Regions from separate parts of the Homo sapiens genome. Here region 1 is linked to region 2. Evidence: fine-mapped expression QTL. A gene starts in region 2. The other region holds a variant in brackets. All regions are shown on one strand. Distances are between the middles of the regions. Region 1 overlaps SEC16A (SEC16 homolog A, endoplasmic reticulum export factor). Region 2 holds the start of DNLZ (DNL-type zinc finger).

Region 1 (12,024 bases), 96 kb after region 2:
GACATAGGCACAGACCAGGGACAAGATCCACCAAATCGAGTTCCAGACAGTTCATGACCTGCCCCTGTGCATCTCACCAGGCGTCCAGCAGGGCCGTCTAAAGACAGACCCCAGGAGACCCATGGCCACCATGCCCTGCCCCAAATGGCCATTTAAGCTTCACAACAAAAAGCCAAGTTACAAAAGGAACTGGCATTAACACTGCTGTTGTAGTGAGACTCTGAACCCATCCAGTCTGTAACTTCCAGAATTTCTGGTCTACGTTAAGACAAGTAATGTAAGTTGTTTCAAGCTCAAATAACTTCAATCTCTTCCACCAATCCCCACAAACACCACACCCCATGCTGCTTCTGCTCTCGAGACAGCATCTCTGCAGCCCCACCTGGGTCTGGGCTCCTGGCTTCCTGGAGCAAGTGTCTCCTTTCCTGCAGAGGTGGCACACCAGGTGGGAGGCCAGGCCCGGAGGGCTCCAGGAAGCCAAGTGCAGGCCCTGGGGTCACACAGCCAGGACCCGGCTCCAGGGGCCCCGGGGGCAGTGGCACTGGGAACATCGGCACTCTGGCAGGACTGGCCAATGGGCCGTCAGGGAGCGTCTGCGGAGCTGCATGGGAACGGTGGAGAAGAGGTCTGGGGTTACTGAGGGTAGCTTGAGTTACTGGAAGGAGCTGACACTCGACGTGTTTATGACAAGTTATTTTGTACAGCCCCATTTCTTTTATAAGGGAGGTCCAACAGAGCAGAAAGCCTGAAGCCACCACCCCACCGCACCATCCGTGGTTTGCAGAAAAGCAGAGTATCCGCTTCCTTTTCTAGGGGAGGGGCACTTGAGCAGTCACAGCGGCACGCGGGCTCCAGGGCCCGGCCCACACGCAAGCCCATGGCGGCCGCCTGGCACAGAGCTCTGCTAGGCCCGAGTCCCCTCCTCCACGGCCAGGGGTCACACAGGCCACTCGTTCATTCCTTCATTCTTCCGACTCAACATAAAACCTGAGAGGGCTGCTGCCTACCAGCACCATGCTGGGCCCTGGATGCTTCAACAACAAAAGAAATGCTGGGTCCTCATGGGGGTCGGGACAGATGAACTGAGTAAGAGAAAGCGCTAAGGACAGCAATCAACCAGGAAGTGGTAACGGTGTCTGAGGACGAAGCAGACTGGACATCAGGCAGGGAGGGTGGGCAGTGGGCCCAAATCAGGAGTGTGGCTGGTCCACAGCGTGGGAGTGGACATGGCACGAGGGCAGGAGGGCTCAGGGCCAAGCTTGGAGGGCCTGTGGCCACCGTGAGGACCCTGGCTTGTCCTCAGGTGAGATGGAGAGTCTGGAGGGTCTGGGGAAGAAGCAGGAGGCGAGCAGGAAGGAGCCCGTGCTCATCCAGGCATGCGGACCTGCGTGCAGGCCGCGCTGGTGAGGTTCACTGACGAAGGAAGCCGAGAAGCGCGAGAGAGGAGGGGGCATCTGGACTTGACTCCCTGGAGCTCTGGGCTGGCCCTTCCACCGACGGGGCCGACTGGGAGAAGCAGGTTACAGAGGGGCACAGCCGAGGGCGCCGCCCAGACACGGTGCGGCTGAGGCTCCCGGAGAAACAAGCAGGGAGGCTGAGCAGGCAGCGGGCGCTCAGGGCAGTGTCGCCAGCACATGGATATTTATGGACATGGAAAGCCATGAGCCTCCCCTCCATGGGCTCCTCAGGGGAGGAAGCATGAAGGGAAGAGGGAGGAGACCGAGGAGCCCCACAACCACCGAGGTGGTGTGAGACACTGCCTCCAACAGTCCACATCTGAAAGCAGTTCTCCAGGAGGCAAGGGTGCAGGCCATGGCTCAGCCCACAGGAAGCAGGGGCTTGTCTGAGGGCAGCAGCCGCGCACCTGGGCTCACCTGAGGGCAGCAGCCGCACGCTCGGGCTCGAGTGCTCAGGGCTCGGTGCAGGCACCGCCAGCAGAGGGTTGGCGATCCCCAGGGCTCCTGGCTGACTGAGTCCTGGCCTGTCCAACTGCTCCATCTCGGAACTCGGAGTGCCAGGACACTGCTGCGGGAGGGCTCCATCCTGATGCCATACTCCAGCCCCCTCCTGAGGGAGAACAAGACCTGCCCTGTGGAAGCCGCCTGTGGCCGCTCTGCAGCGCTGCCCGCCTGCCACCACCGCGCTTGCTGTGTCCCTACTTCAGGACAGGAGGCACTCAAAGCCCTTTCTGGGGAATTAGGGAATTCTCATAGGCACACGTTTGCAGTTACACTGTCTTTACAGATACATACTTTCAGTGTGGAAATGACAGGGACAGAAGCCACCTTGCCAGACGCCTCTGTGCCACCCCAAGCCAAGGCTGTACCTTAATCTGCCGCTCCACCTGCTGCAGGTGAACCAGCCACGTGGGTGCGGCCAAGGACTCCTCTTCTGGCTTCTCTTTCAGCTGGGGATCGAAGAGTCGTAACTGGGAAGCCATCTAGACACGGGCAAAAATCAAAGGCCCCTGTCACCACCGGGTGATGGCAAGTGAGCCGTCTTCAAAATGCCGGGCAATGCAGCTTCAGTGTTCACTGGCAATAAAGTTTAATTAGCTGCCTATATGTTTCTAGTATGTGCTTAGGTGACATACACAGCACATGGGACGCTGGGTGACTGGGAAGTTGCTGTAGACGACCTCTTGGCCCACGGGCACTGGGTTGGCAGTGCTAGGCACCCCCCTGGAACAGGCCTGGCCCGAGACTACCACCTGACCACGTGGACCTGACTCAGCAAAAGCTGGACTCCCCCAGGAATGTCTGCATGCTTTCATCGGGAATTTGGGGGATGCAGAGCGGGACAGAGGGGGCAGAACACAAGTTTGGCCCTGTGTTCGTAACCACTAAGGTGGGGGATGAGCACCTAAGGACGCATGCATGAATGACTCTCTGAACTTTGAAATGGGTCTAAAAATGTCCCTAATACAGTTTTTGGGTATCCCATGAGCACGTTCTCACAAATGGAACTACTGACAAGAGGTGAAGATCCTGATGCAACACGGGCGCCTCCCATACTCTCGTCAGTCATGCCGCCTCTGTTTTACAGGCGAAGAAACTGAGGCCTGCAGCAGTACAGCCAGGACTCAAGCAAAGGCTGCTGGACTCTGGACACTTAAGCTATCAACCACCAGACTAAATTGCCTCAAAATAAGAATATCCTGGCCGGGCGTGGTGGCTCACGCCTGTAATCCCAGCACTTTGGGAGGCCAAGGCAGATGCATGCATCACTTGAGGTCAAGAGTTCGAGACCAGCCTGGCCAACATGGTGAAACCCCATCTCTACTAAAAATACAAAAAATTGGCCAAGCGTGGTGGCAGGCGCCTGTAATCCCAGCTACTTGGGAGGCTGAGGCAGGAGCATCACTTGAATCTGGGAGGCGGAGGTTGCATTGAGCCGAGATTGCACCACACTGCACTCCAGCCTGGGTGACAGAGTGAGACTGCGTCTCAATAAAAGAAGAGTATCCTACAGGTAGTTCCTTCTGATTGTGAAACTCGCTGCCAAGGCTCTGTGCTGGCACACGGTGCCTGAGAGTTCCCAGGCTAAGACGCAAAACACGAAGCCATTCAAAGATCTTTATCCGCCCAAGAGGCAGGTTCTGAGCGCCTACCACAATGCGCGTCTGAACCATCGCTACCCCCATGCCCGGGGGCTCTGGCAAGCCCTCCTTCCCTGCAGTCAGCACAGCATCCCGAGGACAGGCGCCAGGGGCAGCACCTGCACAAGCTGGCTGATCAACACCGGGGAATACAGGTGCGGCTGCGTCAGGATGCTCTTCGCGATGGCCTCACAGTAGTGGAAGGCTTGCGTGGCCAGCCCCATTTCCGCCAGGCGGCAGGAGTAGATGAACTTAAACACCTGAAACGACAGAAGCCTTGCTGCCCTGCGGCTCCCCCGCGTCCGAGCATCGCCGATGGACAAAGCCTTGTACTGCCCTGAGGCTCCCCTGCATCCGAGCATCGCCCTGTGAGCTGTGAACTCTTCTGGACACTTCACTCATCATCGTCTCCCACCCACCACGCCCGCTGACCACAGTCCTAGTCCCTGTTCCCCAAGGGATTTCAAGAGCAAAGTAAACGACTAAGCTGGTAGCAAACTCACTCTGCTTTCCCCCCAACCCCTTTCATGGGGCCACTCGGCTCTCACAGTCACAACGCCCCAAGAGCACGGCACTGAGACCACTGCCTTCCGTGTAGCTTAAGCTGCTCCACAGACATTCTCTAGATACTTCATTCTTTTTTATTTTTTTTGACAGGGTCTCACTTTGTCACCCAGTCTGGAGTGCAGTGGCACAATCACAGCTCACTGCAGCCTCAATCTCCTGGGCTCAAGCAGTCCTCCCACCTCAGCCTCCGAGTGGCTGGGAACACAGGTGCATGCTGCCACGCCTGGCTAATTTTTGTATTTTTTTTTTTTTTTTTTTGTAGAGACAGGGTGTTATTATGTTGCCCAGGCTGGTCTCTAATTCCTGAGCTTAGGTAATCCACCCACCTTGGCCTCCTAAAGTGCTGGGATTACAGGCATGAGCCGCCATGCTCAGCCTCTCATGTATGTTTTATAGACACCACCCCCACACTGCATCAGAGAATACCGCCCTCAAATATTAAAAATAGCTCGTACGGCTGGGCGCGGTGGCTCACGCCTGTCATCCCAACACTTTGGGAGGCTGAGGTGGGCAGATCACAAGGTCAGGAGATCAAGACCATCCTGGCTAACACGGTGAAACCCCATCTCTACTAAAAATACAAAAAATTAGCCGGGCGTGGTCGTGGGTGCCTGTAGTCCCAGCTACTCGGGAGGCTGAGGAAGGAGAATGGCGTGAACTCAGAAAGCAGAGCTTGCAGTGAGCGGAGATCGTGCCACTGCACTCTAGTCTGGGTGACAGAGCGAGACTCGGTCTCAAAAAAAAAAAAAAAGCTCATACAGGCTAGGTGCGGTGGCTCACGCCTGTAATCCCAACACTCTGGGAGGCTGAGAGGATGACTGCTTGAGCCCAGGAGTTTAGGATCAGTCTGGGCAACACAGTTTTTTTCTACAAAAAATAAAAAAAATTAGTGTGGCATGGTAGTGCTGCTTGTAGTCCCAGCTACTCTGGAGGCTGAGGTGAATCACTTGAGCCTGGGAGTGATCAAAACAGTGCACTCCAGCCTGGGCAACAGAGTGAGACCCTGTCTCCCTTAAAAAAAAAGCTCATGAAAATAATTGAAATCAAATGCAAACGGAAAGCCTCAATTCAATGGGATCTTGTTTCTTAGCATTTTAGATCAAATGTCTTCTCAAGATCCTCCCCCAAAAAACTCACATCATTTTTTTCGATACCAATTCAAACAATCTAAGTAGCCAAAAGCTTGTTAGCACTGAGTGCCTGCCCAGCCATGACAGCTGCAGGCTGGCAGCACCTGCTTACCTGGAAACTAGGCAGGGGGCAGGTCTCGGCACCCAGGGACTGGGCGTACTCATAGGCTTCCGTCCTCTGGATTGCTTCGTTGGTTGCGAACTTTAAGAATGGCAAACTGTAGAGGAAGTGAATTATTTTGATTTGGAAAAAATGGCCAATTATTGGCATAGTCAACCTTGGAGCAAATCATCCAGAAGTGTGTCCCACCACGTGACAAATAAAGACATGATTCTGGCCATTTCTGAATTCACTAAAGGAGAAGGATTTTGTTTTACTTTGAAAGGAAAACTTACAGGACTACACTGACTTGGTTCTTTACCTGTGATTGGATCCGATTAAGACAAGCTTTGTAGTTTTCTTCGTGTAAACACCAAATCCCGCCTGGGCCATGAGGTAGCAGAAGTGGGCCGCATCCAAGAGGCCCCTTGAAGCTGCGGAGAGACGACACGACACACGGCGGGGGCTCAGCGACCGGGAGCGCTTGCAGAAGTCAAGGACGCGCACAGAAGGCACCAGAGACGCCAGCCGGACCGAGAAGGCCGGGTTCTGGTGATTTCTGCCAACGCCACAGACAACCGGGCCTTCGGCGCTCCATCCGCGACACCCAATGCCCATCTCCACCCCTGACCTACCCAGAGTGTCGCCCATGGTAGCCATCGTCCTGGACTCGACGTCCATGTTGTTGTTCAAGTTGGACAAGACCATGGCGAGGTGCGGCCTCCAATCTCCCCATTTCTCGTCTCCACAGCACTAACATGAGGAAAAACAAAACGAAGCCTCATCCCCGGAAGCCAGCGCCATTTCAATTCCACACAGCTGGGCTCACCAGGCACCTCACGGCCTGTGACAGCGTCACCCAC[G/A]AGCAAACTCCACACAGGCAGTGGAGCCTGTGCAAGCCACCAGGCAGTGCCACTCACCGTGGACGCGGCAGGCATCCGTCCGGACATGAGCTGGTAGACTGTCTGCAGAGGGTCGTTGATTGGGAGGCTGTTAGCAAACCTAGGCAGACATAAACACAGAAAGACCCCATGCTGGCTCAGCTAAAAGAAAAAAGCCGGCCGGACATGATGGCTCACGCCTGTAATCCCAGCACTTTGGGAGGCCAAAGTGGGCGGATCACCTGAGGTCAGAAGTTAAGAGACTAACATGGAGAAACCCCATCTCTACTAAAAATACAAAAATTAGCCGGGTGTGGTGGTGCACACCTATAATCCCAGCTACTCAGGAGACTGAGGCAGGAGAATCGCTTGAACCCAGGAGGCAGAGGTTGCAGTGAGCTGGGATCGTGCCACTGCACTCTAGCCTGGGTGACAGAGCAAGACTCTGTCTCAAAAAAATAAATAAATAAAATAGTAATAAAATAAATTTTTTAAAAAATCAGCCCTAAGCCCTCTGATGTAATGATTAGACTTATATTTCACTTAGGCAAAGTACACACATCTCAATATTTTATTTTTCTTTCTTATCTCAATATTAAAAAAAAAAAAAAAGCTGTAAAAGATAAGGCCAGGTATGGTGGCTCACGCCTGTAATCCCAGCACTTTCAGAAGGCCAAGGCGGGCAGATCCCTTGAGGCTAGGAGTTTTGAGACCGGCCTGGCCAACATGGCAAAACCCACCTCTACTAAAAATACAAAAAATTAGCTGGGTGTGGTGGTGGGTGCCTGTGGTCTCAACTACTTGGGAGGCCAAGGCGTGAGGATCACTTGAACCTGGGAGGCAGGGGTTGCGGTGAGCTGAGATCGCGCCCCTGCACTTCAGCCTGGGCAACAGAGCAAAACTCAAAATTTAAAAAAAGCTATAAAAGATGAAGACTGAGGAATTCACTGAGATTTTACATGAAGTACTAAAAACCATGCAGTTAATTAAAAACTTTTTAAGCTCTCCACAACACGACCCAAGGAAGCCTCGAGGCCAAGGAAGCCCGAGTTCGTGTGGGAGCACAGCACAGTCAAGTGAGATCCGCCTGCCGCCTGCCCCCAGGGTGCGGACGCCGCGTGCTACAGGGAGCCAGCAGGGCTCGCCACTGGACCAGGCCACTGTGGGACTGTACCTGGTCATGACTCGGGCGTGTGTCCGGCTGTCCATCTTACTTGCAAGTAGCAGAGCGTGACCCCACAGGCCATTCTTCATTGCAGACTCCAAAGCATCCTGCAAAAGGCATTTCAGGGACCTTGGTGGGTTATCGGCGGCGCTCACGTGACATGAGTCAAGACAGGCCATGTGTCCTCACGCAGCAGCAGATACACAAACAACCCAAAGGCCTCAAAAACACACTTATTCACCATTTGGAGACTAAAGACACGTAGCGATTCATTATTTTCCTGAGTTTCAAAGTCCCTGTGGTAGTGGGTATTTGTAGATATTTGCTGCTTTTATCCATTTTCAGCATAAAACACAAGCACGCTAATCACAAACAGGGCTAATCACGCAGCGCTGCCCACCACGCCGCCCCATCCACTGGGAAACACGCTCGAGTCAACTCCCCAGTTCTAACAGGAGGCCTCCGCGAATATCCTGTCAACACGGAGAGTGACTCCAGTAAGGCAGCCTCCCCTTTCACCAAAATCATCCAGGGCATAATTTAGAACTTCTGGCTGGGAGGCAAAAACGTTACAGTAGAGAAAGATGTTAATAAAAGCTAACAGGTTACATGACTTCAATCAGTTATAAAACATCCATAATAGACTCATACTGATCAGGCCGGGCGCGGTGGCTCATGCCTATAATCCCAGCACTTTGGGAGGCCAAGGTGGGCGGATTGCTTGAGCCCAGGAATTCGAGACCAGCCTGGCAACATGGTGAAACCCCGTCTCTACAAAAAAAAAAAAAAAGTTAGCCAGGCGTGGTGGCATGCAGCTGTAGTCCCAGCTACTCAGGAGGCTGAGATGGGAGGATCACTTGAACCCAGGAGGTCGAGGCCACATTAAGCTGTGATCACGCCACTGCACTCCAGCCTGGGCAAGAGTGAGACCCTGTCTCAAAAAAAATTAAAAATAAAAAAATAAAAATACTGGTCAAATATGCCCTTTCTGAGTTTATCATGATATAAAAGGACAGAAAACTCTCAGCCTATCCCATGTCTCTGCTGTTCAGGGCCACACATGCTTCTGAGACTGGCCTCTCTCCTGCTTAGCACATCCAAAGCAAACATCATGCACCCTAGACAGCCCCTCCTGTGCACATAGTGTCACTGCTGCAGTCACTATGGACCCCCCAACCCCACTGTCCCAGAGCAGGCTCCTGTCTCAGGCCCCCCACCTGCCCCAGTCCCCACGCTGCTGTGACCCCAGTCACTGGACGCTACACGCACTGGCTGCTCTCTTGCCCATGGCCTTTCCATGCACTGCGCCTCTGACAGGTTCAGTGTGCCCTCCCAACTCCCAATGACTTCTGGGCTGTGGACTCGAGTCTGACTTTGTGAGAATGCCACAACTTGTGTCATGCACATTTCATCCGAGATTTGGCACACACAGCAGGGGCACGGCCTGTGCTCAACATGTGCATTTATCGAATAACTGAAAATTTAATCTGCAGGTCTCCAACACTGGAAACAGTTAGAAGGAAACCAACATTAACACCTCCAGAAGGATGGCATACAAGAGTCAGGCATTGTTCAGGAAACAGCAAGACCCGAAGCCCCACACTGCAGCGCGGATGCTCCCAAGAGGGGGCCACGTCCCTCCCTGAAGGCTGCAACCCCGCACCAGGCCCGACCCAGTGGACATGTGCAGGCGCCAGGTGCCATGATGAGGAGGCGCACCTTCTTACGGCCATACAGCAACAGCTCCCTGAACCTCTCGGTCTCTCTCTCGAGCGAGCTGGCGGCAGCCGCCGGACCACCAGTGAGGAAAGAGAGCTGGGCCTCACCAGACTCCTCCTCTTCCACCTGCTCCACTGCCTCATTCGTGAAATCAATCAGGTTTGCTTCATTGGGCGACTTCCCAGGAAGCCACACTGTTCTGTGGTCTCGTAACAGAAGCTCCGCAATGTCGGTCCCTACCACGGTCTGTTTGGGTCAACAGGAACAGGAAGGAGAACAACGGCTCTCAGGTGAGGACGCGTTGGACCACCACAGGCACAAAGCCCCACCCTGGACACAGCCAGACCCACAACTACCCGAAAGGCTGGCAAGGCTGGGCTGAAACCTCATCCCATCCCAACCGCACGTTCCCTCTCCCTCCCTACCCAGCCACTACAGTGTGCTTCCTAAGGGGGCCCTCGAGGCTCCCATAGCTGGCCACGCGGATCCCGCCCTGCTCCTTCGGGAGGCTGAGCATTCCCAAGACGAAATGAAGACCAGCAAGAAGAAACACTCTAGAAGTAGAAAGAAACATACCCCATTTTGTCTGCATAAGAGAACAATAAAATTCCAAAGAAGACTTGCAGACTCTTTGTCAATTAAGTTTTCATTCTGCAAACATTTCATAGCTTTGTTCTGTGCAAAATTAATGACATCCACCTTATGGGTGTCGTCTCTGCAGAAAGAACACACAGTGAGCAGTGATGTCTGCAAGGCCGGGCTCACAAAGAAATGCCTCAACAAGGAACATACTTGGCCAGGGGTCCCGGGAACGCCCGCATCTCCTCCTGCTCAGACGTGTGCTGCAGCAAGGCCTACGAGGAGAGGGCCGTGGGTCAGTGGCAGCCAGTGCGCAGCCACCCTGCTGGCAGGCCGGCCAACCCAGGCACGGATGCTGCCCGTGAGAGGAGAGGATGGCATGGCCCACCTGCCCCGCCCCACAGCAGGTGAAGGCTCTGTCGAGGCTGTTACATGGAACATGGCCTGTGTGGACCACAGCCATGATTTCAAACTTTATTTTAAGTAGTGAAATCCATTTTCTCTCCCCAAATACTGAGGCAGAACCCCAATACATGTGACAGAAGCCTGCAGAAGCTGCAGGAAGAGGCGCATGCCAGCCCCCGTCACCTCGGCAGCGCCGTGCACGTCCACCCCACCCGCCCCCCTCACCTGGGCAGCACCGGGCCCACCCACTGCATCTATCATTGAAAAGCACCAATAAAGCAAACATCCCCAAAACGAGGACAGAAAATGCATATACAATCAAACCACGTTGAACACCCAAGGCAGACGCTTACAATACTGACTTCTAGGAGGAAAAATATATGATCAAATAGAAGAAAAACCCTACAAATTGAAAATTCACAGGAATAAACATTTTCCAAGGACGTATGTCCAGAGACAAGGTCTGACAATTGAAGATGACAAACTGCAAAGCAGAGAGTTCCCCAGGGCAGCAGAGCAGTGACGCCACGCTTCTGCGTGTGCCATTACCTCCATGCTGTGGACCTCCACCAAGGCCGGCTGTCCTTCTGAAGGCAGATTGGGAATCACTTTGATAAGCTGACCGCCAGGGCCAAACCTGGCACAGACATGAGGCACTGAAAATTTTTCAGGAGAAGTTGGTCTTGATGAAACTGCATTTAAAATAAATTGAAAAAGAAACAATCAGCTTGTCACTGATGCTTCTGAGCCTAGATTTTCAATGTGCTCACACAGCTTAAATCACAGGTTAGATTTATCACGACAGACTTCCAACTCAAAAGTCGGTAATTGTTTAATATCATACTTAAAAGTAGAACTTCAGCATACGTCAGGAAAAGAAAAATGTCTGAATCATTAAGCATGAAAGCTGTTCCCTTGTACACTGAGAAAGCTCCCGCAACACCCTCATGAGCCGCCCTGAGGCTCCTGCCACGGTGCGTAATCCTCCCAGGCCTGGCCCACTCCCGAGCTCTTCCATTTTCACAAAATCAAATTCAGACTGCGATGACCACACAGCACCCAGCAAAAAGGACAGCAAAACACCTCAAGCAAAAAAGAAAATAAGGAGCCAGGCATAGTGGTGCATGCCTGTAATCCCAGCACTTTGAAAGGATCCAAGGCAGGAGGGCCACCTGAACCCAGGAGACAGAGACCATGACCGTGCCACTGCACTCCAGCCTGGGTGACAGAGTGAGACTCTGTCTCTTAAAAAAAAAGAAATGAAAAAATGTTAACTGAAACAATACTTTAAGAAAGTAAGGCCGGGCACAGTGACTCACACTCTAATCCAAGCATTTTGGGAGACCGAGGAGGATGGATCACTTGAGGTCAGGAGTTTGAGACCAGCCTGGCCAACATGGCAAAACCCCATCTCTACTAAAAATACAAAAATTAGCTGTGCATGGTGGCAAACACCTGTAATCTCAACTACTCAGGAGGCTGAGGCAGGAGAATCGTTTGAACCCGAGATGCAGAAGTTGCAGTGAGCCAAGATCACATCACTGCACTCCAGCCTGGGAGACAGAGTGAGACTCCATCTCAAAAAAACCAAAAAACAAACAAACAAAAAAACTCAGCCTACCATTAAATTCTGTAACTTTATATCTTTACGTATATTTCTGCAATTTGCCAAGAAAAAGCATTTGAGCATCCTGGAAGGGAACTCTGACTGACACGCGGGACAACTGCAGGAGCGGAGTCTCCAAGGGGAATGAGCAGCTCCCTCCTGCACGCCTGCTGAGCCACGGGGTCTGCGATGGGGATGTGATCAGGGGCTGCCCAGAGCCTGGATATGAGCTGTCCTCAGAGTCACACTTTAAAACGCATGTCGGGGCAGGCAG
Region 2 (9,692 bases):
GAAGCTGGGGAGGCTTCACTCAGCTCAACCCTGCAGACCCCCCATATGAGAACCCCCCTCCTCCCACCAGCTGGGGGAGATGACATCACTGCTCTCTCCATGGGGAGGGGGCTCACAGGGCACCAAGTTCGGGATCCTAGGACTGGCAGGACCTGCTGGAGCCTGAGATGGGCCCCAGGGGCCTGAGGTTGCCTCCTCCTGTCCAGACCCAGCCTTGGCACCTCCCAAGACTGCCAAGGGCCCTACCATGGCCCCACAGCCCCCAGGGCTGGCAGTTCCATCTAGGAGGGTGCCTCTAGGCCCCACTCTCAGGCTAGGATGGAGAGGCAGATCTGGGCCTGGTGAGGTGACCTGCTTCTGGAGGGGCAGGGCCGCACCCGAGAGCAGGGACAGGTGCCCGAACACAGGGTCTCCAGGACGTAGCGCCCCCCCGCATACTTGAATGTATGTGCGTATTTATTGCTCACGTCTGTGCCATGTTGTCAATGGGTCCTTTCCAACCCAAGAGGTACATTTGTTTTTCTGTTTTTCCTGAAAAATAAAGTCGGCCAAGTGAGTGTGGTCCGTATGGGCTTAGTCCCGGGTGGGGGCCTAACCCGGTAAGAGGCTGCACTGTGCAAAGTGTCCACAGATACCCACTGTCTGGGCCCTCTGAGACCTCAGAGAGATGGAGTTCCCACTGCATTTAACCACGGGGGAGCTGGGGCACAGAGGGGTGAAGTGGCTGCCTGCTGTCACCACTGATTCCTGCACCCCTACCTCCTCACGCTCCCAGCCCCTAGGGAAACAGAGCATGCTCTGAGCTGACACTCACGTGGCCGGGACCAGCCCCCAGAAGCAGCAGCCCCCAGGTCAGCCCCACGACCCCCTGAGGACCCAGCCTGCTGCCGCCCACCCAGCACCCGGGGGAGGGAGGTCCTTTCCTGGAGTCTGATCCGGCTGGGCTCAGGGTCTGGACACTGAGCCACAGTGGAGGAGCCGACGGCAGATCTGCAGTCTTGGGGCTTGTCTGGGCGCTGCTTGTGGTGGGTGGCACCCCCACGGGGCCCCCGTCAGGGGACACACAGGTGCGCCGGGCAGTCCTGCTGCCCCTCGCCACAGCCCACCTGGCCATGTTGGCAGCCACAGCCTCTGTGCTGGTTGACTCCGTTGCCTCCTCCACCCCAGAAGGGGCCTTGGGAACCAGAATCAACGTGTACTCCAGGTCCAGGGTCCCAGCCAGCTTGCGTGTGGTGGTACACGCACACAGGGTCCAAGTAACCGTGCAGGGCCCAGGACCGCGCACAGCCAGGGAAGCGCAGCAGTGCCGCCCACGCTACTGGCTGGGACAGCCTCTGAAGGTGCGGCCGAGGAACCTGCTTGGAGAGACGCTGTGACGAGGGATGCCCAGGCCAGCAACCGTGCCCGGGAGGCAGGGATGTCCTGGGGCGGGGGGGTGTAGAGTGGCAGGAGATTAGGATGGCAAAGCCCCTTGCAGAAACCTGGCTGTGGGATTGGGGCTGCGGGGAGGGAAGGGCGGAGGGAGACAGGGTCCAGGGGGCCTCAGGCAGGAGCTGGCGGGATGCTTCTGGCACGCGGGGGGTAGCCATAGGTCTTCTCTAGGAACGTGCCAGCCTTGGGAAGGATTTCCCTCCAGGGCCAGCCTGGGCCCAGAGGTGCTGGCATCAGACAGAAAAGACATGGTAACGTCCACATCCCAACTACCAGCCGCCATCTCCCCATCCGTAAGAGGAGGGGTTGGCCCAAGCGGCTCTCCTTGCTCTAATTCTGCACTTCCAGGTCCAGACGGCTCCCTGGACCTCCCCACATGCTGGTCCAGGCCCTCTGGAGGCAGTGAGGCAGCCAAGCCAAGCCCAGCCCCACTGCACTTCCAAGCCCCCAAGAGACCCCCAGCCAGTGCCTCCATGGAGGAGCAGGCCTGGGTGCCGGTGGCTCAGCCGAGAAGAGGACAGTTTCCACAAATGGCACAGAAGGCTCTGGGTGGGAATAATAGAGGGTTGTTGGCTGAAAGAAGGACAGGGGGTAATCGAGGCAAAGCCCACGCCACAAGCACACTGGGAACGATGCCGCCGCGCCCCGGCCTCCCACGGGCCGGATGTGAGCTGGCAGTCCTGGCCGTGTCCCGCTGGGAGGGGCCGCACTGGGTCCCTGTCGTGCTCAGTCCTGCCTCCACCTCCCACCTCGCCCCATTCTCTTCCCTGCCGGAGTGTGGCGGGTGATGAATGCTGAAGGTTACGCTGCCCAGAACGCTTCTGCAAATAAACAGGCTGCTGTGTTTGCTCGCTTTCATAAACACGGGAACATCCTGCGCACAGACAAGGCTGGGAGACAAACCCCACACACCTCGGAGGGCCCTGGGGACGTCCAGAGCGCTGTCCACCGAGGGAAGGAGGCCCAGGTGGCTCCCCCGGGAGGGGTCTGGAGCTCCTAACACACGGCCACGCCATAGCTGCTCGTCCTGCCTGGGCCAGCAGGCAGCCTGGTTTGCTCACTGTTTCGCCGACGGCCGGCGGCCGAGGACCAGGGCTCAGGTCTGCACTGGCTCACGGAAGGGAGGCCGCCAGAGCTGGCCAGGGGGGCGGCAAGGGCCTTGCAGAGGAAGGCTGAGGCTCACAGGGGTGGTGACCTGCTCAAAGTCACGCAGCGACAGCCAGGAAGGGCTCTGACGCCACATCCAGCCCCCTTTCCACGCGACTGTGGCCTCTGTGGGCAAGAGCTGGGTGACTCTGTGTAGAAGGAACTGTGGTGAGGCGAGAGGTCCTGCGGCTCCTATGTCCCACCCAGCAGCACCAGGGATTCAGAGCAATCGTTCTAACTCCAGAAAAAGAAAGGCCACGAGGGCCACAGGCCCCAGCATCTGGAAGTAATGTCTGTTTATTGATAGAAAACAGGCCACGTCCAGAGAGGCCCAGGGCCAAAACCTCCTTCTGGAAGGCCGAAGTCCCACAGTGCCGGGGAGCGCAGGAGTCAGCTCGGCTCCGTCTTGCCAGGGCTGGGGGGACCCTCATCCTCACCCGCTTCCGGAGCTGCAGTGGATGTGGGGGCCCCTGCAGCCTCCAGAACCAGTTCCAGGGCCCCCTCGCCCGCCACACGGTGCACCTGCTCGCCTCTGGCCGTCAGGATCTCTTCGATATTTCTGGGGGGCAGGGAGGCAACATGGCTCTTCAGGGCCCCCCAGCCGCCCTGCACTTCAGTCCCCTCAGGGCGCCCCATGGCCAGGCCAGAGCTGCAAGCACCAGGCCCAGCACTCCTGTGGCATCAGGCCACACGGGCACTTCAGACGCTGGCCTGTGTGCCCTCACCAGCCCTGTGTCTCTGCCGGTATGCGCCGCCTCAGGAACCCAGTCTCCTGCTCCTGCCCCCTATGTGCCAGAGGGAAGAATCTGCAGCCCCGGGTCTGATGGGAGGACAGTCCCAGCTCCAAGGGCCAGGTACCACCAAGCACCTGGCATGCTGGTCTCAGACCTGCTGTCGCTGTTACTGTCCTGCCCAGGACCTCCCGGCCAGGCAAGGCCCGGACCAGGCTCCCGGCACCACCTCCACTGCTCTCCCAGCAGCCAGGGCCCAGGCCACACCTCCTGGTCCACACCCCAAGCCTTGCTGTGGGCCAGCCACCCCAAGATGGCAGAGGGCAAAAAAGTTCCACGCTAGAGAGGGACAAGGCTGCCAGTGATGGCAGAGGGCAGGCAGAGGCAGGGAGGCAGGGCCACAGGGCTGGCAAAATTTAACAAATAAAAACGCACCCCCTACTTGGGGCATACTTAAACTCAAAAGCTATCTGGGCTTTATAGGAAATTCTCATTTAACTGTGTGTCTTGTATTGATAAGGTGGCTGGATTTCCCAGGTGAGATCTATAAACCTCAACACTAGGGCAAGGTTCCCCCAGGGAGGCCAGGGTACTTCTGGGTGGCCTTCTGGCCCAGCCCTGGGGTACAGGCCTCACCTCTTCCCATTCAGGTCCGAGAACCAGCCCAGGTTGTCAGCGATGATATGGTGGTTCTGGCAGCCGGGGCAGGTCACAATGACCACGCCTTGGTGATAGGCCAGCTTGGAGATGCGCTTGGAGGACCTAGTCCCGCAGACCTGGCTGGGACAGGGTAGCTGGTGAGGCTGTGAGGGCCGCCACGCCCCTCCCGGGAAGACCCGCCCCTCTAGGGGTAGCTCCAGCCACCTCACCCTCTCCAGAGAAGGCCCCGCCCCCGAGGGATAGCTCCACCCACCCCCAACCTCGCCCTCTCCCGGGAAGGCCCCGCCCCAGGGACGGCTCCACCCCTCCTCATGGTCCGCCTCCGCTCCCTCCCAGAAGCCCCAAGGGGTGGCTCCACTCCTTCCTGTGACTTGACCACGCCGCCTCCCGGATCCCCGGCGGGCCGCTTCTCCCCGCAGGCCGTGTAGCGTCAGATACGGGTCTGTCCCCGGTTCCGTCCCGCCGCGCGCCTACCTTGCAGGTGTAGACGAGCTGGTAGTGCGCCGCCTCCACGCGCCCCAGAGCCGCCGCGGGCCCCGGCCCCTGCTCGGAGCTTGAGCGCCGCCAGCCCCAGGCCCAGGCCCGCCGCCTCCCCGCGACCTCTGGACGGGCCCCGCGGCCCCACAGCCGCCTCAGGCAGGGCGCCCGGGGCTGCACGCGACTCAGCAACCTCGGCGCGCCGCGCAGCGCAGTCCGCAGCATCCCGCTCGCCGGCTCCGTCCGCCCTGCCCCGGCCCCGCCCCGCCGCCATCTTGGAAGTGGGCGCCGGGCGGAAGCGGCGTTCTTGGGCTTCCGTCTTCCGGGTCGGGGGCGCGCTGCGCTATGCCGCCCCCTGGCGGCCTGAGGGGGCCCTGCGTCCACGTGCAGCTCGCACCCCGAGGACACCGCGGGCCGCAGCGAGGAGGGACGGCCGCGGGGCTGCGCGCGAGTGTCCGAGCGGGAATGCGGGTCACCCGTGCTGTTTATTTACGCAGCTGTGTTTTCTAACACTAATACAATGCATGCATGTATTGTGTGTTACATGGTGAAACAGAACAGATCCTGAAGTTACACAGATGGCGTGTGCATGGGGGTGGTGAGCACCCGCATGGCCTCCGCAAAATGAGTGCCGCTTAACAAACGGCCCCAATGCCCGGCAGTCCGGCTGGGCCTTTCAGGGCACCAGATTCCTCGTTCCAGGCCAAGTCAGCGACGGCTCGGGGAAGTCTGCGCCCCAGGGCGTCGGCACCCCCGGGTGGCAGGAGGCCGGGCCGGTGGGTGTGCCCTGGTCGGGGCCTGCGCTGCTGCGGCTAGGAGCCCTCAGTGTCGGTGTTGTCGCTGCCCGTGGTGTTCTCCCGGTCCTCCTCCCCCTGCCGCCATCCTTTCTGCATCTTCCTGAGGGCGCGCTTCCTGTGAAGACAGGTGTCTCAGGCGCGACCCGGCTGCCGCTCCCCAGCCCGTTTTGGAGAAGCCTGGGGGCCGCCCGCCTACCTGCGGTAGTTCTCAAAACTCTCTTTGAGGCGCCGCCGCTCCTTCTCGGGCGGCTCCCCGCTGCTCAGGCCTGCGTCCTGGAGAAGGGGGAAGGCTCGGGCTCCGGCCGGCTCCCCTGAGGGAACCCGTCCTTCTCACCCGCCCCCCACTGGCCCCTGTAACTGCAGACTGGTTGGGAGGCGAGGAGCCCAGACAGCCTCAGCTCAGCGCCAAGCTCTCCCTGTGGGACCTGCCTGTACCCCTGGAGGTGAGCCGGTGTGGGTAGCCTGCATTTCAGATGCCAAGACACACCCAGGAGGCCAAGCCACGGCTCCAGCCTGGGGTCCGGGCCATTGTTTCTACAACAAAGCCCGAGGTGGTGCTTGCTCTCAGGACTCCTGTGTTCACCTCCTCATCCACTGTAAAGGCCCTCGGAAAACCAGGACCAGGCACATCCACGTCCAAAAAGCCCCCCAAGCTGCTGCAGTGCCCAAGAAAGGGGGATCCACTTCGCAGCCCAGACACCGCACCCCGAGCACTGTGGGCAGAGACCTTGTGGTCACTCCTCAGCTGTCGTCGGGGCCACCGCAGGGGGTGCCCAGGGCAGGGAGCCACTCTCCCTGTGATCGGTCACCCTGAGGCCCACGGCTGGGAGGACCCCACCCCGGGGAAGCCTTACATGGGGGTTCCGCAAAACCTGCTCCTGGTGCAGAGCTGCAAAGGGCTGTTTCGGGCTCCCCCCGCCGGCAAGGCAGCCTGGAAAGGAGAGTCGTGCCTGTGGGACCTGCCCATCTGCTGGGCCACGTATAGCACGGCTGCCCCACCCCTCCCCGGCATTGCAGTGGGGCTGTCTTCCAAGGCCTGGTGGGATCCCCACATGGGTCCAGTGTAGACTCTGCTTTCTGTAGATGAGACTGAGGCCTTATGGCCTCGCTTGCCTGTTCATTGCTCCAGGAGGCCGCCAGATGCCAGCCCAGGCCCAACGCTCCCGCCAGTGACCATCCCTCCCCCGAGCTGGCTGCCTGCCAGGGAGGAACGCCTCCCAGACCTCGGGGGAACTTAAACCCTGGGCCTGAGCAGCACCGTCCCCCATCACTCCAAAGCATCTGTGGGCATGGCGGCCCTGGGGAGAGAGTTGGGGACAGCTACAGTGGCTGTCTGGGTCCTCCTGAAGTGGGGGCAGGGGTACTGCAGCAATTGGGAGAGAACCTTCAGGCGGCTGGACCCCCTCAGAAACCGCCAGGACCTGGGCAGACCAGGGATCAGGACCCTTGGGCAGAAACCACGCACGTCCAGTCTCAGCCCCACTGCGGTGAGGGCCAGGCCAGGGCTGTCCTGGCCATTGGCAGCCCCTTAGAGCCAGCCCCTCCCCTGCTCACCCTCCAACCTTCACACCTGCCCCTGCTCCTGCCACAGCCACCCAGGGGGATGGGGGCAGTGCCTGAGCCGGACTCCTGGGTCCTGCTCGCCTCTGTGCCTACATGGGGGCTTGGCATCCCCATGTTCAAGTGTTCTGAGCTGCAGCCAAAGGCGCTGGTCTTCACTTCCCCGTCTGCGGCTCCTCCTTCCCCTTCCGCCTCTGCTTGGAGGCCACGGCCTGGTACTCAGGAAGCTTGTCCAACTCCGGTGCAGCCTCCCAGGACCCCTCTGCTGGGCCCTCCCCAACCCCTACCTGACAGCACCTTCAGTGCAAACACCTACCTCATCACCACTGCCCACTCCTGGACACTCGGGAGCTGCTCCCAGCTAGCCACCCAGTCCTTCCCCCAGACAGGCAGAGGGGGCCTGCCCTGCCCGCTAGAAGCCCCTGCCACTGCCTTACCCCCACTGCACCGGGACACAGCAGGCCCTTGGCCACCCCTGCATTCAGCCCTTTCCCTCAAGCCACGTGGGGCCCCATCTCGCCCCATCTTCTAGCTTCATGCACCTGGTCGTTCGCTCGTTACCACCTCCCTCTGTCCAGGAGGAAGCTTGGAGCAGCCAGGACTGGGCCTGCTCACCTCTGCACCCCGTGGGGGCTGCCCAGAGGGGCCCCACACTCTCAGGACGGTGGGCCTGCTCACCTCTGCAGCCCATGGGGGCTGCCCAGACCCCCACACTCTCCACCCCAGGGGACACTTGTCCCACTAGCTGGGGCCCTGGGTTCCAGCTGGGCTCTGTAGTTTGTTCTCTAGGTGACCTTGACCATTTTACTTATCCCCAGCCCCAGTTTCCCTGTCTGTGGAGTGGGGGTTGTGGGGGTTGACACAGGCATTGCGGCACGGGCTGCCTGTGCTGAAGATGGGCCTCACTTGGGGAAGCTGGGAGGCCTCTGGGTGTACTGCTGTCCCCACCTCACCTTTGTCTGAGAGCTGGGTGTCCTCCAGGTCCTGGGGGAGTGAGAGCTTCCAAAGAGAGTCAAGATGTCCCATTAGGCCACTTCGCCAAGGACTGGACCCGGCCACACTGCCCACCCCAGCCCTTGGCCCTCAGCTGGGTGCAGCCATTGCCGTCACCCCCTGCACAGAGCTTCTCAGAGACTCAGGTGCCCAGCAGACGGACATTGGGCGGCCAGGAGGTGGGCACTGTCCGTGCCTTACCTTACCCCTTGAGCCATCAGAGGCCTTAGCATTTGGCCACCTGCTCTTCCTCCACCCAGCCCAGCCCACCGAGCAGGGCCATGTGACGGGCAGTGTGGGGCTATGCCTGGTGGCAGCTCAGCCAGGACCCCAGGTGAAGGAAGGCCAGCCTCGTGCTGGCTGGGGTCTCACTCACCTCCTGGGACCTCCTGGGTGAGCCATCTTCCAGGTCGGAGCTCTGTGGTCATAGAAAATGGGGTGGGTGGGCTGTGAGGGCAGAGGGCTCCCCAGGCACAGGGTGGGCAGGGCACAGAGCGGGATCCTCCAGGGAGCCCTGGGCATGCCCTCAGCCACACCAGGCCCCCTCCATGCCCAGAACAACCTGCTAGGCTGCCTGATGGCCAGGCCCAGGACCCACCCCGGCCCTGCAGCCCCACTTCCTGCTGGGACCCTGAACTGCTCGTGTGCCCTCACCCCACTGCCAGGAGGGGTTTGGTTAGGTTGGGGCCCGTCACAGAGAAGGGTTGGGTCGGGAAGGCCGGGGCTGAGGCTCCGTGCTCCCCTGGCCCTGCATCCCACGCGCCGGCTCCCCTCCCTGCCGCAGGCCCCAGGCCCACCAGGACGAGCGTCTCCAGCTGCTGCCGCCTGAGCCTGCCCTCCACGGCCAGTAGCTGCGCCTCACACTGGAACACCTGCAGCTGCAGCTCATCCGCCTTCTCGCCCAGCTCCCGCACCTGCTTGCGCAGCGCGTCCTTCTCCTGCAGGCCCCGGGCGTGCTGTGCGTGCAGCTCCTCCCGCGTGGCTATGGCCTGACGGGACAGCACAAGGCCGACCCTCAGTGAGGGCCCCAAGCTTGCCCTGGGCCCTCGGCCCGGCCGCCCAACTCCAAGCAGAGGCTCCGGAGGACGTCAAGCCGCTGGGCGCGGAGGCTGGTCACAGCCCCTCCATTTGTGTGCTCTGCGGACACGAAGTCAGCACGTGGGGGATTGTAAATGTGACAGTTGTCCCTGCTGCCCTTCTGTCTCCTCCCAAGCCTGCACCCCCGGTGGACACAGCGTGTGCTATGTACCCCCACACGTGCACATTTGATAAATTTTGGACGCGGCTTGATATGGAGACCCTGACTGTCCATAGCTAAGCGTCCTTCGTGACCGCAGCACTCTTTACCACCCCTGTCCTCACTGCGGACACTGAGACGCAGGAGCGAATGTGCAAACACGACGGCTTGACCACCCCTGCAGCCGAGGCTGGGAGGCCCTCACCTAACCCCTTCTGCCCAGACTGGAGCAACGGCTGGCAGCTTCCCTAATCCCTGGCCAACGCGCTCCCGGGAAGTCCCGTGGGAGCCCCCGCCCTGGGAGCCACACCAACCCCCATGGGGGCACAGCTGGATCTGCCCTTTTCCCCTGCCTTGGCGTGGGCCAGGCGCGAGTGAGGCTGAGGTGGGGCTGAGACAGGAGCTCTGAGCCTGGGCTGCTCTCATGGGGGCCGGGGCTTCCTTTGTAGCCCCAGGGGTCTCGTTTTAAGGCTCCTGATGTGGACAAAGTGCCATCCAGCATTTAGCCGAAGCAGCAATGGTGTCCATTGGAAACAACCTCCAGGATGGGACTTGGGACGGGGCATGGGAAGCAGACACAGCCCTGCCCCGCGACGCTCCATCCGGCTCACAGCACGTAGCACTGGAGGCCTTGCAGGCCTCACTCCCGTGGCCCAGGCT

What was found. PIP is the estimated chance that this variant, and not a neighbour inherited with it, causes the effect.
Region 1: its variant is fine-mapped to the expression of DNLZ in lung (TOPMed, PIP above 0.99).

The regions. Positions count from the first base shown.
Region 1 is chr9:136,453,727-136,465,750 of GRCh38, forward strand. SEC16A (SEC16 homolog A, endoplasmic reticulum export factor) reads right to left here. Exons shown (of 32, transcript NM_014866.2): 9 at 10,694-10,836; 10 at 9,953-10,014; 11 at 9,737-9,875; 12 at 9,161-9,406; 13 at 7,451-7,548; 14 at 6,316-6,397; 15 at 6,031-6,148; 16 at 5,718-5,829; 17 at 5,408-5,513; 18 at 3,718-3,858; 19 at 2,327-2,440; 20 at 1,875-2,067; 21 at 383-601. Among named protein-coding and RNA genes, the nearest start is that of INPP5E, 20 kb to the left of the region's middle. The variant G/A (reference allele first, on the strand shown) is at 6,259.
Region 2 is chr9:136,359,045-136,368,736 of GRCh38, forward strand. DNLZ (DNL-type zinc finger) reads right to left here and starts at 4,700. Exons shown (of 3, transcript NM_001080849.3): 1 at 4,443-4,700; 2 at 3,945-4,084; 3 at 439-3,136. The coding sequence starts at 4,670. The coding sequence ends at 2,968. CARD9 (caspase recruitment domain family member 9) reads right to left here. Exons shown (of 13, transcript NM_052813.5): 8 at 8,593-8,784; 9 at 8,172-8,213; 10 at 7,756-7,801; 11 at 6,097-6,173; 12 at 5,439-5,515; 13 at 4,912-5,357. The coding sequence ends at 5,258. LOC124902309 (a long non-coding RNA gene) reads left to right here and starts at 4,325. Exons shown (of 2, transcript XR_007061863.1): 1 at 4,325-4,408; 2 at 8,580-9,692. It overlaps GPSM1 (G protein signaling modulator 1), which reads left to right. Exons shown (of 14, transcript NM_001145638.3): 14 at 1-557. RefSeq lists silencers at 4,056-4,335, 4,436-4,935, 4,966-5,065 and enhancers at 5,277-6,167, 6,168-7,057.